Homo sapiens: one gene and its partners. The protein of the gene in region 2 interacts with the protein of the main gene of each other region in a biochemical or structural test. Each region holds a gene or a part of one and is shown on either strand. Other genes may lie near its edges.

Evidence for each region.
Region 1: the proteins of CD34 (region 2) and SELP form a complex in vitro, tested with the Homo sapiens proteins (one large-scale study listed by IntAct).
Region 3: the proteins of CD34 (region 2) and SELL form a complex in vitro, tested with the Homo sapiens proteins (one large-scale study listed by IntAct).

Annotation. Positions count from the first base shown.
Region 1 is NC_000001.11:169,595,625-169,599,124, forward strand, and holds part of SELP (P-selectin precursor), read right to left. Parts: intron 1,553-3,500; coding exon 1,367-1,552; intron 511-1,366; coding exon 301-510; intron 1-300. UniProt on the Homo sapiens protein: Ca(2+)-dependent receptor for myeloid cells that binds to carbohydrates on neutrophils and monocytes. Mediates the interaction of activated endothelial cells or platelets with leukocytes. The ligand recognized is sialyl-Lewis X.
Region 2 is NC_000001.11:207,880,318-207,883,967, forward strand, and holds the end of CD34 (hematopoietic progenitor cell antigen CD34 isoform a precursor), read right to left. Parts: 3' UTR 655-3,650; downstream 1-654.
Region 3 is NC_000001.11:169,705,121-169,708,620, forward strand, and holds part of SELL (L-selectin precursor), read right to left. Parts: coding exon 3,297-3,500; intron 2,330-3,296; coding exon 2,222-2,329; intron 1-2,221. UniProt on the Homo sapiens protein: Calcium-dependent lectin that mediates cell adhesion by binding to glycoproteins on neighboring cells. Mediates the adherence of lymphocytes to endothelial cells of high endothelial venules in peripheral lymph nodes.

The sequences.
Region 1 (3,500 bases), about 38 Mb from region 2:
CTATAGCAGGTTTTACATTTAATATGTCTATTTTTCTAACACATCTTGGACATCTGCAAATGTTTCTTCCTTTAAGTCTCTGAGTACTTGTGTATTAGCTTTAGCTTGTGACATGAGGAAGGACAGAAGTGAAATGCCTGTGACACATTACTTCTAATGGGATTGGTGTGGATTTCATAAGGGAGATGACACTTGGAGTAGTGGTTGTGGTTGGGTGAGACTTCAACATACAGGCACAATGGCTAGCTTGAGTACTTGCAGGAAGGCAGGTTCAGAACTGCCTGCTCCTTTTCACCTTACCTCTGCATGCTGGAGTTACTGCTGTCCATTGTCCTGAAGGTCTGCAGCTGAGAGTGCTGTCTCCTATGAGTGTGAATCCAGCGTTGCAGCCAAAGTAACAAGTGGTATTAAAACCAAAGGTTCCCGGATGATGCCTACAGTACATGGTTCCCTGCCCAGGAGTGGTGAGGGCTGGACATTGCACCCCTGGAGTAGGAAGTGATGCTATGCCTGTTGTGAGAAAATGTTTCCATTCAGAGACCTCCCAATTAAAAGAAGCGTTAACAGAGTTAAGGCTAATCTGGAATAACTGCTTTTCACTCCCTTCATAACAAGGGAGGCTCCTGCAAGAGCTATTTAAGGAAGTTAAGAAAAACTATCAGTGTCAGAGATAGAAAACCAGATGAGGAAAATTATTAAAAATCATCCTTGAGGAGATGATTCTCCTGGCCAAGAGAAGAAATCAGAGGAGTCATTGTTGTTGCTATTTTAAAAAGAAGCAAGAAATGGTACAGAAATATAAGAAATTCAGCAGAAAGCCAAATATACATGGGCCAACTGCCTGCCCAACCCTGCCTTATTGGGAAATGGTACTGTTCTCTGACTAAAGGTCAATGTGAAAGTTGAAATTTACTGCAATGATTGCTTTCTGTCTCAAACTATTTCTTCCATTTGAATGATCCCACCAGCTTTGTCATTAACTTGCCATGTGGCAGGAAGATGATGATTGACCTCTCTGCACCTCAATTCCTAGATTTGAAAAACTGGACCAGTGACTCTACCCCAGTATTGTCTGTTTCTCTCAGCAATAAATTAATGGAGACCATTCCGTTCACTCAACAAAGCTCTTTCAAAAAAAGAAGCCATGAAACAAAATTCCTGCTTAAGAATCAATATACCTTTTATTCACAAACATAAAAATATCCTGTCACTCCTTAGACATTTTAAAATCCTTCAGCTGTTTGCTAAACCCAAATAATGGTAATATATACAATTATCTAGTTCACATATAAGAACTAGATAATTGTTTGTTGTTGTAGAATAAATTTCCAAAAGTAGAACTGTCTTAGCAAGTACATATTATTACCTTTGCAGGTTGGTGGAGTAGCTGACCATCTTCCAGAAGTTGTGCATTCCACATTATTGGGCCCCTCCAGCTTAAAGCCGTTGTCACAAGAGAAATGGCAGGTGGAGCCAACATTGAATTCTCCACGAGTGTCAGAACAATCCAGGCTGCCCTGCTCTGGGGCAAAGAGTTCTGGGCACTTGATGGCTAGAGTATCAAATTAAGAGTGTCACAATCTCCAAGTTTATTCAGAAGTTCTGTGTTACACAAAGTTCATTCACTTATATATTCAAAAAATATTTATTAAGCACCTATATTCCAGGTATTTTGCTAGGCAGCAGCATTCCACAACATATCATGTAGGTCATTTGCTGCAAAGGGCAGTGGGAGGATGGTAAGCTTACAGAGAAGAGTATAGGTACAAGTCACGAAGACAAAGAAGTCAAAGATTTAGGCAGCCATACTCAAGAACTTACAATGTCACCCTATTTTCTCTACACCCTCTGCTTCAGAGACCTCGTAGCCTGCCGCAGCTCCCTCTATCTTACTTGAATGGGTGCAATCCAGGATTTCATTTCCGCCCTTCCTCTTGCCTGAGACTACTTGCTCCCATATATCATGCCATCTTCTCAAATTCAACACACCTAAAACTGCAATGATTGCTTTCTGCCTCAAACTATTTCTTCCATTTGAATCTCCTCACTAATTGTTTTGTTTATTTTGCTGTTGTATTTTAATACCACCCATCCAGATAACACAGGAAAACTCAAAACCTCCTGGTCAAGATAGATTAGTTTCTTGGAATTCCCTGAAGTGACTTTGTGTGTTATTGCTTCTGGTTCTTGGCTCACATTCCCCTGAGAATTTTTCCACTTTTATGGCGTAAAATCCCACTAATCCTCCAGGATTTAACTCGTAAAGTCTCTGAAGACTCTGCTGATCACCACAGCCTGAACTCTTCTCCTCTGAATTCTTCAACTTTTTGTCTGAACTGATGTGCTGTCATGTCCCATGTCATACCCTCACTCTTCTACTGGATGGGAAAGTGTCTAAAACCCAAGAATGATTCATCCTTGAGTCTTCCATAACTCCCATCCCAGGATCTCAAGAGGCAGTGCTCAGTAACCACTTGCCAAGTGAATGAATAAATGAATTTAAATTTTAATTCACAATTTCCCCCCAAAAGTATTTTTACAAATTATTGCAGTTACATATTTTCTTAGCATTATTCTTTTCTCCCCATTAATTCTCTAATATAAGACTATTATTTATCAATAAATGTTGGGTTATAGACAAATGAAGTGACTATTCTTTCTTTAAATCTAAGGCTATTCTGACAACAATACCTTGGTCAGATAAGTCTCATTTACTTAGATAGTTTGATTTTTACAAACCTCTTCAAGACCTATATGCTCCCTCATGGAAAACCAATGTACAGTATTTGGCTTTTACATACTGGCCCATGTATTTTTCAGTAACAAGCTATTCATTGAAGGATTATGGATTCTTATTGCATGAATCCATTCAAATAGCCAAAATAACACAGTGAATTTCAGTTCAGTACTCTCAAATTGTTGAGTAATTAACAACTTCATATCTGACACATCAAATCAATTTACTAAACCTTTTTGAAACATGTCTACTGGTGTAACTCCTAGACATGAAGTCATCTGTGAACATTTTCACAAAAATAACTTTTTCATAATCTCCCAGAATTACAACTTTAAACTGAAGAATATGTATAATGTCAGCTGCAGGAAAGCAGGGACCTTGTCAGTTCTTTGAACACTGTATCCCAGAGAACAGGGCCTGACACATAGGAGGGGTTCTACAAATACTTATGAATTGAATGAATACAGTAATGAATACAATTTAATTTAAATGCATTCTAAAAGGTATGCCTACCTGGTTTGAAAAGAAACAAGAGGAATTACTGTTTTTAAAAATTAACCGAAGGGGGCCCTAGTATAAAATGAGAACTACTACAGCATTAAATTCATTTGGGGGATAGTGCTTTGGTTTCAGTCTTATCAGTCATGCTCAGCCAAGGTTACATATCCAGACTTTCATATTTATAAAAGTCTCTGAACTCTCTCAGGTAAAAATTAACCTTGACCCTTACATACTAAGAATTTGGCTCTGGATCATGTAAAGA
Region 2 (3,650 bases):
GCAGGGTTTCACCATTTTGGCCAGGCTGCTCTCGAACTCCTGACCTCAAGTGATCCACCTGCCTCAGCCTCCCAGAGTGCTGGGATTACAGGCGTGTGCCACTGCGCCCAGCCATATGTCTCTGGTTTAGCCACTTTTCTTCAGGCCACAGTCTTCCTACCCTTCAATAATGCAATCACCTCCTAACCCTAACTGGTTCCTTCTTCAGTCCATGCTCCACACTGAAGCCAGAGTAAGCTTTCTAAAATGCAAATCTGATATGTCACTTCTCTACTTCAGACTTTTCAATGGCTCTACATTACCTTCAAAATAAAGAATAAGCTTTACATGACACACAAAGCCTTCATCATCTAAATTCATCTACAGCAGTACACTCCAGGAGAAATAAAATGTGAACCACGTATGTCATTTTAAATGTTCTATTATCCACATTCTAAAGATTTTAATAAATATAGCTTAAATTAATTTTAAAATACATTTTATTTAACCCAATATATCAAAAATATTATCATAGCAAAAAATACTCAATATAAAAACTATTAATGAAATATCTTACATTATTTTTTTCTAAGTCCCCAAAATCTGTCATGTATTTAACATATACAGCATATCTCAATTCAAATGCTAAATTTTGAAGGGTTAAAGTGAAATGTATTCCTACCAAAACTATAAGGTCATGTTTAACAACAACAACAAAACATTTTATGAGGTTCCAGTTTTTAAATTTGAGTTTATTAAATTACATATAGCTGGAAGTCCTGTCTCTCATTTGCACTAGCCACATTACAAGTGCTCAGCAGCCACATGTACTTAGATGCTACTGAAATAGTAACATATCTAGAGCCGCGGTTCTCAAAGCATGATCCAAGGTCCTCTGGGGGTTCCCTAAAACATTTCCAAGTGGTCTCTGAGGTCAAAACAATTTGAATAATAATACTACAAATCTATTTTCCTTTTTCACATTCATTCTTTCACAAGTATACAGTGGAGTGTTTCAGAGGCTACCCATCATATCACAACAGATTGAATACAGAAGCAGATAAAAGAATCAGCATTCGGGGGCTGGGCGCGGTGTCTCACACCTGTAATCCCAGCGCTTTGGGAGGCTGAGGTGGGTGGATCATGAGGTCAGGAGATCGAGACCAGCCTGGCTAACACGGTGAAACCCCATCTCTACTAAAAATACAAAAAAATTAGCCGGGCGTGGTGGCGGGTGCCTGTAGTCCCAGCTACTTGGGAGGCTGAGGCAGGAGAATGGCGTGAACCCGGGAGGCAGAGCTTGCAGTGAGCCGAGATCACACCACTACACTCCAGCCTGGGTGACAGAGCGAGACTCCGTCTCAAAAAAAAAAAAAAAAAAAAAGAATCAGCATTCTTCTCTTCAGCCAGATATTAGAGAGATTTACCAAAGTCTAAAACAATGACACTCTTTTTCCTAATTGTTTTTGTTTTGGAAAATATAATTATTTTTCATTAAGAAAAGCATTACTTACATTATCATGTAATTGAATAATTATTGTTATTTTTAAACAAATTAATAAATAAAATTTTCTCAATTTTAATTTTTGAAACAGTAATAATTGATAGATGTAACTTTCAAAATCAAAAGCTCTTTGAAGTTCTAAATTTTTAAGAGTGTAAGAGGGCTTTGAGAATAGCTGGTGTAGAACCTGCCTAACTCTCCAGTCTCATGGCTTGTAATTTCCTCTCCTCTCTCTTATATTCGACTTGAACTTCCAGTTCCAGACAAGATGGAGTGGACACACTTTTTCTTATGCCTCCTGTTAACTAACTCTAAAAACCCTGGACATTATATATAAGTCAAACATAGGGAGACTCCGATATGTAGAGAGAAGAAGGCAGAATTGGGAGGGACTTTTGGACTCAAGGAATGACATGGCACCAGGGTGGTATCAGCAGAGATCTACTGGGAAGCCTGAACTTCTAACCTGGGCCAGCAATAATGAGGTACCCCCTTCACCCCATCCCACCTCTCTGCCCTGAAGGTGTCAACAGCTGAATGGGGAACCTGGACCCACCAGTGTGGTATCAAAGGAGGGGTGCTAAACAGAATCTTTCAATAAGATCCAGTCTTTCAACATAAATCCCAAATTTCCAGATGCAATTAAAATCACTGGTAATACCAAGAACCAGGAAAATCTCAATTTGATTGAGAAAAAACCATTAACAGATGCCAACATTGAGATGATAAAGATGTTGAAACCATCTGACAAGAATTTTAAAACAGACAGCCATCATAAACATGCTTTAATGAGCAATTGCAGCATGCTTGAAACAAAAGAACAGAAACACTCAGCAAAGAAATAGAAGGTATAAAGAAGAATCACATGCTTTGCTTGAGCCTTAAAAGAATCACTCACATTTCTGGAACAATCACCCTCACTTTGCTCCTGGGACAAGGCTTCTTCCTCTCTCGGGAACACCCATATCTCTCCTTTTCTCCTCTTTAACTCCTGCTTGACCAAAGGATCAGTCCAGACGTCACTTCTCCTGGGAAGCCTTCCATGGTCTTCCACGGCTTCCATGCCCCTCCCACTCAGAGCTTCCTATACCATAGCACTTACACTCAATGCATATTGTTCTGTCATCTGTCCCTCCCACATCCACCCAATGTAAAGACTTGACAGAAGGGACTATGTCTTATCCCAGGTGCCTGGCATAGTACCTGGCTTATAATAAGCACTCAAATATTTTTTGAATAAATGAATAAATTAATGAATAAATGGAAACTCTTCTGTGGCTCCTCTTCTATTGGATAAAATTAAACTCTGTGGTTTAGCTTTAAACACCCTACACAAACTGTGACACCCGGATCTTTCTGGTACTCGGCTTCCCTTAACACATTCTACTTCTCTGTCATACCAGAAAACACATTGTCCTTTGACAGTACCTTATCTTTCCCCATCACTACATATTGTATGTACTCTTCTATCAGTCTCAAATGTCCTTACTCATTACTATCATCAAAATCGTATTCATTTTTACAGGACCCACTCAGAAACCACCTGTTCATGACCCAGTCTCAGATCTTCTCAGCTGGAAAGGGTCCTGCCCACATCTAGATACAAAGCACTTCATTTAGTCTTTCCTCGTGTTATTTCTCACTTTCTGTTGTGCATTTTTTTTCTTGCTTCTTTGTTTAAATGTGTGTTGTATTATCCCCAAGATTTAAACATTTGGGGTTCAAATAAACTCACATCCTATTCATCTTTGCCTCTGCCACTGTGCACGTAACACAGTCCCTTGTTATTCTCTGAGTTTCAGTTTCTTTTTCTGAGATAATAGAACCTACTTCACAGGGTTTCTGTGAATGTTAAGTAAAATATGCTATTTAAATATTGGCACCATATCTCAATTTTCATACAGTAAGCACTCAAAAACTGTTAGCTACTATCATTGTAAATATGATTATTATTTGAAGAAATAAATAGACTGAGCAAGTCCTGTTACCTCTACTTTGAAACCACTTTTTGAATTCTGCTTGATCTCATCACTGCCAATATGATCACCTGCTCCCAGCCATGATCGTTCTTCTTGCTACGGTCTCCTTCTACTTTCTTATCCCTCAACCTCTATTCTCTACTCAGCAGCCAGCATGATCCTTTTAAAACATAAAGCAGATGATATGA
Region 3 (3,500 bases), about 38 Mb from region 2:
ACATCAGAGCCCCTGAGTCTACTAGAGTATTGGGAGCAAGATGTTCAGAGAAAGAGTGGGTCTCCATAATAAGCCTTCTTTGCAAGGAGAGAATATAAAAGTCTAGGAAGCATTTTGACCTCAATTCTGTCTTCTATTCTAGCTCAGTTCCAGAATTTTAACTCTTTTGATTTTGACAACCCTCTCCAGAAACTGTATCTATTTCCCTGTTCTGATTGGTGGTACAATAGGTAAATTTAAGACTTGGAAATCAAAGTTTTCACATTTTAGACCCTGCCATGCCATTTAGTAAACAGTACAACTTTCATGTCTTATTCCTCATCTGTCAAATTTAAGCCATTATTGCTACCTTGCTCTAGAGACTTCAAGGAAGAATGGACTCAAGGAATCAGAAGAATTTTTGTATTTGGAAACTATATGAGATGAGATTAGGGAGAAACATGGGAACTAAGAGAAAATGTTATCTTTTTTCATTGATTTAAAGAGTATCTATTATATATCAAGCATTACTCTGGGGCTTGAAGAGCTTAGATTTCACCCTGTAGGACAAAATGGTAGGTAGAAATTAATGGGTGGATTGTCATGTATGTGTGATGTGTTTTAATTGCTTTTAATTGATCAGTCTCCCTGTAGTATGAATAATGTATTTGAGGGGAGCTAATTTAAAATTGTGGAACTCATCTAATAAACTATTGCAAGAATCTAGAAGAAAGATAATGACGGCAATGGTAGTAGAGTTGACAAGTGGAAGACAAATTAGAAAAACACTAAGTTGTAAAAATTGGTAGAATGTTACCCTGCATAAATGTTGGGGGAGTTAAGAGAGTCTCATACCAGGGTGCCCATGTAAATGGTGATTCCACATACTGAGATAAGAAATACGAAGAGAAAAGCTGACTGGGAACAATTGGTTTTATAGTCTTTTAAACATCCCAAAGGACATCCTTAGCATATTTGAGTTCAGAGCTGGAGATAGGCTTATCAGTCCAAAGATCACATAGATTTGTGAGTCCGCAAAAGTCAGTAAGTTTGACCAAAGGATACATGTAGATTAGAGTCAGAAGAGCAATATACAAAAGACAAAAGCTGAGAAATTATAGTAGTTTATGGTCCTGGATAAGTGCTCATGAAGGATCTCAGGAGAAATGATCACAGGTAGAAAGAATGAGAAAAGAGTGATATGAGAGAAACCAAGACAAAGAAAAGTAAAATGTTAAAAATGAGTGAAATAGGCATACCAATAATTAAAAATGAGTAAAATAGGCATACCAATAACATAAGGGTTAAAAAATAGAGTTCAAAAATGGGGTGAGGGTAAAGTATTAGGAAGGAGTCATGGCCCAGGGATCAAGTGAAATGAGTTAGATCTATAGATCTATTTCAGTTGGTTGACATTTAAATGTATTTTGGTTTTAATTCTTTATTGTTTACAAACATTGCTTTTTTAAAAAATTAAATTGTCCAATTCAATTCAGGCTCACAAGCAAGTGCCTCATATATACAGGCATTTTGTGGATCCCAAAGATGCAATGATAAATAGGACACTTACTGATCTCAAGAAGTTTTCAGTACCAGAGGAGACGGACAAGTGAACAGATGACTTCAACATAAGTGGGAGAAATGAGGAAGAAATATGTGGAGCTATCAGAACTAAGAAAGCTTCCTAGAAGAAACTGTCTTTGAACAATGTCTTAAAGATGACATGTTTTTTGGCCATGTGCAAAATGAGAGAGAAGGCCACCAGCAAAGTCAGTGTGCTACAGAGCACATGTGTTAAGTGTGGAGAACTGCAAGAAGGAAAGGAACTACTAGAAGGAAAAAGCAAGATACTTTCTGGGTAACTCAGCCTCCTAATGATAAATGGCATAGTTTCTTCCAGACCTTAGAGTTCTAATTAATCTAACAAGCTCATTAGATCGTGAGCTTCTTGAGAGCGGGAATCTACCATGCTAATTCCTTATGGTAACCCTGACAGCTTTTATCCCAACACTGTGCTTCTTGTGGTACTCAAAAAGACTTGTTGAGAAGTGAGTCGAAACTTCATGCTGACTTATGAAATCTTTACGGAAAGGTAACAATATTGTGAAAGCAGAGCTTTCTGATCAAAACTTCCCATTTCTCAGAGTGGCTAGTATCATTTTGTTCCAACCAGCTTCATGATAAGCTATAATGATTCCTGTGACTTTACCTAAGAAGAAGCAAAGAAAGGAAAGAGACTTACCAAACTGACACTGGGGCCCATAGTACCCCACATCACAGTTGCAGGTGTAATTATTGATGATTTCTACACATTCTCCATGGCCACTGCATGACCAGGGCTGGCAAGAAGCTTTAAGGAGGTCAGAAAAAAAATATTTTAATGTGATTACATTTTAGTACTCAAAGTCATTTCTTTAGACATAGATAACCTTTTGTCTGAGATGATTTAAATAATCAGGAAAGGTTTATTTGTAAATTCATAGCATAAAAATCATATGCTAAAATTTTTACGTATAAAATACACTAAGCATATAGTCATAGGCATTTATTTGCTTTTGGAATGAAATTACCAATACTAATATTCTGTAACACTTATAGGAAACTTAGTGGCATACCTTGAAACTCTTGAAATTACTTGTTTTTAATGAGTGAGAAGGTTAAATGATGACCTGACCTCAATCATTTCTGCATGCAATTATTTCTTGGCAATCCCTTTCTTTATAGAAATCAAAGATTAAAAAGTCCAAATTTGCTAAAACGGTAGAGTCCAATTTATAAGAGACCAAATTAACTATGGTTCATTATTAAAACATCACTTGGAAAATGCTGGCTGTTTTGGAATTGTAGAAGATTTTACAGAAATATTCATACACCAAAGATAGTGCAATTTTTATATAAAATTATATAAGGTTAGACCAAGAAGGAAGCACGCAGCACCACACTCTCTACTTCACAATGTGAAAACTGAGGTGATGTGAGCCTAAGTTTCCAACTGGCCCCAGCTGTCAGCTTCTCCTCCCCTGCCTTATTATCAAAGGCACTGATTGTCTAGCTCTTCCTCTGTACTTCCTACGTAGATCTATCATTTTGATGTAACTTGATTTAGGGGTATAGCTTTTGTGCACAGGGACAAATCTTACACACCAAAAATTCTTAGGAGTGACACGATGCAAGATTATATAGAGGGCTAGATGTATTTTAGAATGAACCAGAAGCTGTTCTCATCCCCCCACCTTTCCATGGGGTAAATCTGAGTATTCTCTTAACCGTGGCCCTTCCTGAGTCTGAGGCAGCATAGCCGTCTTGTCACTCCCTACCTGTGTAACAGAGGGCTGCCTTTAGTTTGTGGCAGGCGTCATCGTTCCATTTGCCTGCATCTTTGTTTCTCTTGATATAGATCTCCACGCAGTCCTCCTTGTTCTTCTTGTTGTTGGGCTCACCATCTCCCCAGTTCTCTGCTTCTTCAGTAAGAGATTTGTTGGTTCCCACCCACGTCCATATTCCTCCTATCTTCCGGATTC